Regions from separate parts of the Homo sapiens genome. Here region 2 is linked to region 1. Evidence: fine-mapped expression QTL. Tissue or cell type: blood mononuclear cells. Region 1 holds a variant in brackets; the other region holds the start of a gene. All regions are shown on one strand. Distances are between the middles of the regions.

The links. PIP is the estimated chance that this variant, and not a neighbour inherited with it, causes the effect.
Region 2: MR1 starts here. The variant in region 1 is fine-mapped to the expression of MR1 in blood mononuclear cells (TOPMed, PIP 0.95). The same link has a PIP of 0.9 or more in aorta.

Annotation. Positions count from the first base shown.
Region 1 is chr1:181,054,083-181,056,765 of GRCh38, reverse strand. It overlaps MR1 (major histocompatibility complex, class I-related), which reads right to left. Exons shown (of 6, transcript NM_001385161.1): 6 at 1-1,541. The coding sequence ends at 1,501. Among named protein-coding and RNA genes, the nearest start is that of MR1, 21 kb to the right of the region's middle. The variant C/T (reference allele first, on the strand shown) is at 1,498.
Region 2 is chr1:181,032,395-181,035,077 of GRCh38, reverse strand. It overlaps MR1 (major histocompatibility complex, class I-related), which reads right to left and starts at 1,095. Exons shown (of 6, transcript NM_001385161.1): 1 at 1,004-1,095. The coding sequence starts at 1,070. RefSeq lists enhancers at 1,186-1,295, 1,426-1,525, 1,726-1,915.

The DNA of each region.
Region 1 (2,683 bases):
GCAGAGGTCAAACCTGAGGTGCAGGACAAAAGCCACTTGTCAAAGTTCAGGTCACTGAAGTAAGCATTAGGGCTCAGGTGCAGAGTCAAACGGGGTCAGAGAAGTAGGACCGAGGAATGTGTGACTGGCAGCCCCAGGGCAAGTAGCTCCACATGGCAGGGCAGTAGGTGAGGCCTCAGGGGTTGGGGATAGTAAGGAACATTAAGGGGATGTTCATTCTCACCATGGGCTTTTATTGATTCCCAGTGCATATGTATGAAGACAACCTATGTAGGAAGGCAAGTCATGCCCAGCTACCATGAGCCAGCACAGGAAAGGCAGAAATGAGAATTGAGCCCTCTCCTGACACCAAATATACTGTTATTATTATTATTATTATTATTATTATTATTATTATTATTTTGAGATAGAGTCTCACTCTGTCGCCAGGCTGGAGTGCAGTGGCGTGATCTCGGCTCACTGCAATCTCTGCCTCCCGGGTTCAAGCAATTCCCCTGTCTCAGCCTCCCAAGTAGCTGGGACTACAGGCACGCAACACCATGCCCAGCTAATTTTTTGTATTTTAGTAGAGACAGGGTTTCACCATATTGGCCAGGATGGTCTTAATCTCCTGACCTCGTGATCCGCCCGCCTTGGCTGCTCAAAGTGATGGGATTACAGGCGTGAGCCACTGCACCTGGCCATACTGTTATTTTTACATTAAAATAGTGCAGCTGGGTCCAGGTCTCTGTAGTTCCACTGGAGGTGATGATATGTCTGATAATTATTTCTCTTAATTTCCCACAAAAGACAAAAAGGGTGAGACTACCTCCATAGATCCAACCGGGCAGATTACCAAGATTCCAAGCTCCCAGGCAGGGTTGCTGTGAACAGCAGGGGACTTTGGCTTTCTCTCAGGCCAGAAAATGTATAAAAATAATCAGTCCATTCCCAGGCCATTGTAGAAACCTGCCGGCTACTCTCATGGAGTGATCCAATCCTACCTGTAGGGTCACAGTCATGGTGCCCATGATATTCAAAGCGCTTGTACAATAAATGTTCCCATGAAAGATGAATGAGAAAGGCCATTTTATGAAGTACTGAGGTTCCCTTCACATGGTGTTCAAGTGGAGGCTGGAGGCTCAAGTCCAAGGCATTGCAGAAGACAGTTCCTGCTCTGGTTGAAAAGATTCCTTCCTGCTCTGAGAATCTCCAACTAGTTGCAAATCATCATTGACAAATAGAATGTAGGGAAGCGTTGTGTCATGAGACAAGCTGTATTTAAAGTCAACTCTGATAAAACAGTCCATCAAAAGAGACTGAAAGCTGACAGTCTTTTTGGAGCCAAAGAACAAAGAACATTTTGTGGCTCCTCTGTTGCTGCCATAAATGCTCAATCCCATTACTCTCATGTATGTTGTGGGTGTCGTCAGGACCTTCAAGCACTAGGCTTGACTCTATGGGGGACAGAGGATAACATGGCTCCTAGAGGAAGGAGAACTGGAAAAGAGGGATCTG[C/T]AATCATCGATCTGGTGTTGGAAGGTAGATGGCTCCATTTTGCTCTGAAAGGAAAGGGGTTTTTAGTCAGATTACAAGAATGTTTCCTCACAGCTCAAAAATAAAGTATGCAGTGTTCAGCAAAATCTGAGAAACAGGCATCGACAGTTTTAGCTTGCTTTGTCAAGATTCTCTTAGTACTTGACAAACTTTAGCTCAAATTTGTAAACTCTATAAGATAAAAAGCAGGAACTCACAGTCTGTATAATTATTGAGAGAGGGATGTCATTGTAAAAAAATTTTTTGTTTGTTTCACTATCATTTATTGGATTAGGATTAGTGCTGTACTTTATCTATAAAGAAAACATTAACAACCCATTAACTCTCTGAGCTGATTTTCTTTTCTTTTCTTTTCTTTTTTCTTTTTTGAGACAGAGTCTCGCTCTTGCTGCCCAGGCTGGAGTGCAATGGAGCGATCTTTGCTCACGGCAACCTCCGCCTCCCAGGTTCAAGCGATTCTCCTGTCTCAGCCTCCTGAGTAGCTGAGATTACAGGCATGTGCCACCACGCCCAGCTAATTTTTTTTTTTTTAATATTTTCAGTAGAGGCAGGGTTTCACCATGTTGGCCAGGCTGATCTCGAACTCCTGACCTCAAGTGATCCGCCTGCCTCGGCCTCTCAAAGTGCTGGGATTACAAGTTGTAAGCCACCACGCCCGGCCTCTGAGCTGATTTTCTAGTAAAAGGGTTGGTTTTACTTTGATCTAACAACATGCTTTTGTACAGTTATCACCTGAATTGGAGTTGAGGTCTATGTCTATGAAGGAAAACCAAACTTCTGGTCCACTTTGGGTTCAAAGCATGGTCTCATCGGTACTATCCTGTGATCAATTTGAGCAATTAGTGAAGCCAGAGCCAGGAGATAACCTTACCAGGCTCTATTGTAAGCTCTATGAAAACAGGGATCGTATCTGTCTTGTTCATTGTTATATCCCAGCAACCAGTACAGTGCCTGGAGCACAGTAGGTCATTAATGTATACTTACTGAATGAATTTATGTTATTCCACATTATCAAGAGCCTATATATCTCCTACTTCTCCTCCCCTTTTCCTTACTCTAAGTCCCATTCCCTGAAGGTATCTACTCTTACATATTTAATGTTTTGAATAATGAATTTACAAGGAAAAGGACTTTCATATGCTTGGGA
Region 2 (2,683 bases), 22 kb after region 1:
CCGTCTGCCTCGGCCTCTCAACGTGCTAGGATTACAGGTGTGAGCCACCACTCCCAGCCATATGATTTAAAATTTTTTTATTTGTATAAATTTATGATGTACACATGCAATTTTGTTATAGCATAGATTGTGTAGTGGTCAAGTTGGGGCTTTAAGGTATCCATCACCCAAGTAACACACATTGTACCCATTAAGTAATTTCTAATCATCCACCCCCCTCGCCCTTCCAAATCTCCATGGTCAGTCATTCCACTCTCTATGTGCATGGGTGATTTGAAAGAACTCCTTCCTCTCATGTTCATCAGTCACACCTATGGTGGTGGCCAAGTCTAAGTTCTGGACACTGCCCACCAGTACCAGTCCTCAGCCCAGGGAGCAAGTGATTAGGGCAGAGAAGCCTGGTGGTTCTAGCCCATGGGCCCTTTCCCCTATTTGAGGCAACAGAAGGCATTTGCTTCCCCAGTGACTTGAGCTCCCCGAATAATGAAAAACTCTCCCTTCTACTTGATTAATACTTCTCACAGTCAGTAAACAAACCCAGAGCCATGGTTTTATCTTTCTTGGATCTTTTATTACAGGTAGGGCTTGTGTTGAGGAAAAACATAAATAAACCTGAACAATGGATCTACTCCACTGTTAATGCCCCTGAAACTCTGACTACATCCTCATGAGACTCTGGAAGTTAGAAAAGAGGAGAAACAAAAGTAAAAGAAAAAATATGAGCAGAAAAGAAAGGAGGCCATGCTCAGAGGGAAAGTGAGGAAGTTCCAGAGTCTTTCTAGAACGGCTCCCCCTCCCTCAGAAGGTGGTGACATCAAAATCCTACAAATATGAACTGGGAAACTGTTCAGGCAATCCATTGCTCCTGGAGTCTGAGTGTAATACATACACGTTTCTGCCCCTGGCTTCTATATTTTTCACCACAAGTTTTAGGAAGAAAAGCTGTGCCTTCTAGGCTGCCTCGACTTTGGAGTTAGGAGAGAAGAGGACGTGGGATACTCACGGGAATCGCTGTGCTTCACCATTAACACAATGATGAGAGGTAACAGGAACGCCATCAGTTCCCCCATAGTCCTTCTCTTTCCGGGTTCTTTTAACCAAAAACTGACAGGTCCCTTCTGAGAACCTCTTGGTGACACACAAGGCCTTCTCCCAATAAGAACAGGGGAAGATATGCAGTGTCATCAGTTGCTAGGTTAAAAAAAAAAGATAAAATGAAAGCATGAACACCTTCTTCGGTAACTTTTAAGTCTTTGCTGGTTTCAGACACTGCTTGCTCCTTTTGGTGTATCTATCTTCACCCTATTCCCAATTTTTAAATATTTATGGAGCATAGTCATGTTCAAAGCACAGAGAAACAAAGATTAATCATATCTGGTCAATCAGGGAGCTCAAGCTGCTGCCTCTGCTTCCCTGGAGCTTAGAATTTTGCTTAAGGGTCAGTAAGAAAGAGTCACAGTTCCCACGGCTTGGAACTCCCTGCTCTGGCTCCCTATGATGCTGAAGTCTCTGTCTGAGATAGCAGGTGTCACTTAGATTGTCCCGTAATCTTCAACTTAGGTCTGTCCTCCCTGCTACTCTAGCACCCAGCACAATAAGCTCAAAACACTTACTGAATAAAAGAAGGCAAGAGAAAGGCCTACAGAAGATTCTGAGGGGCAGCCACTCAGCTTGCTCAATCAGCAATCCCCAAGATCAAGCTGTGGCTACACTGTCATAAGGAGCACATGACAAGCTGGAAAACAGCAGCTTAAGCTTGTCCAGGGAGCTAGGGAACAGGCCCAGACAGGAAAGAGGAAGTAGACATGAAGGGGAGAGGTGAATGGAGGCATGGCCATGAGGCAGGCAGGCTTGAGCTGGGTTCAGGGACCTGGGTTTGCCTCCCCACTATTTGACCATGGGCAGAATCCCAAATTGCACCAAGGCCTGATTTCTTCAACTTTAAAAGCAAATCCTGTCATATATTTCACAGAGTTGTTGAAGGATCAGAAGTTCTGTTTATGATGCATTTAGTAGGTAGTAGAACCTTATGTACCGGTTGTATGGTAGGTTGAGAATTGTCGCCCCAAAGATGTCCACAACCTAATTGCCAGAACCTGTGGATATATTACCTTAAATGGCAAAAACAAAATAAAACAAAACAAAACCCTTGGCAGATATGATTAAATTAAGGATCTTGAGACAGAGAGCTATCCTGGATTATCTGGTGGACCCAGTGTAATCAGAGGGGCCTTATTAGAGGGAGGCAAAAGGGTCAGAGTCAAGGAGATGTGACAATGGAAGCAAAGGTCAGAGTGATGATGCCATTGCTGAAAGAAGGACATGAGCCAAGGAACGCAGATGGCCTCTAGAACTAGAAAAGAGAAGGAACAGATTCTCCTTAGAGCCTCCAGAAGGAACACAACACTTTGATTTCAGCTGATAGGACACATTTTTGGACTTCTGTCCTCCAGAACTTTGAAAGAATAAATTTGCATTGTTCGAGGCCACTAAGTTGGTGGTAATTTGTTATAGCAGCAACAGGAAACTAATAGGTCTACCTTTACCCAGAATAAAATAAGAAGCCAAATAATGAAATTAACATTTGGCAATCTCTCAGCGGCCCCTGGCACCTTCTCTTCTCAGATCTTTGTATTTCTCTCTTCCTTTCCTTTCTGTTTCTTTACATTGTTTTTCCTTTTGT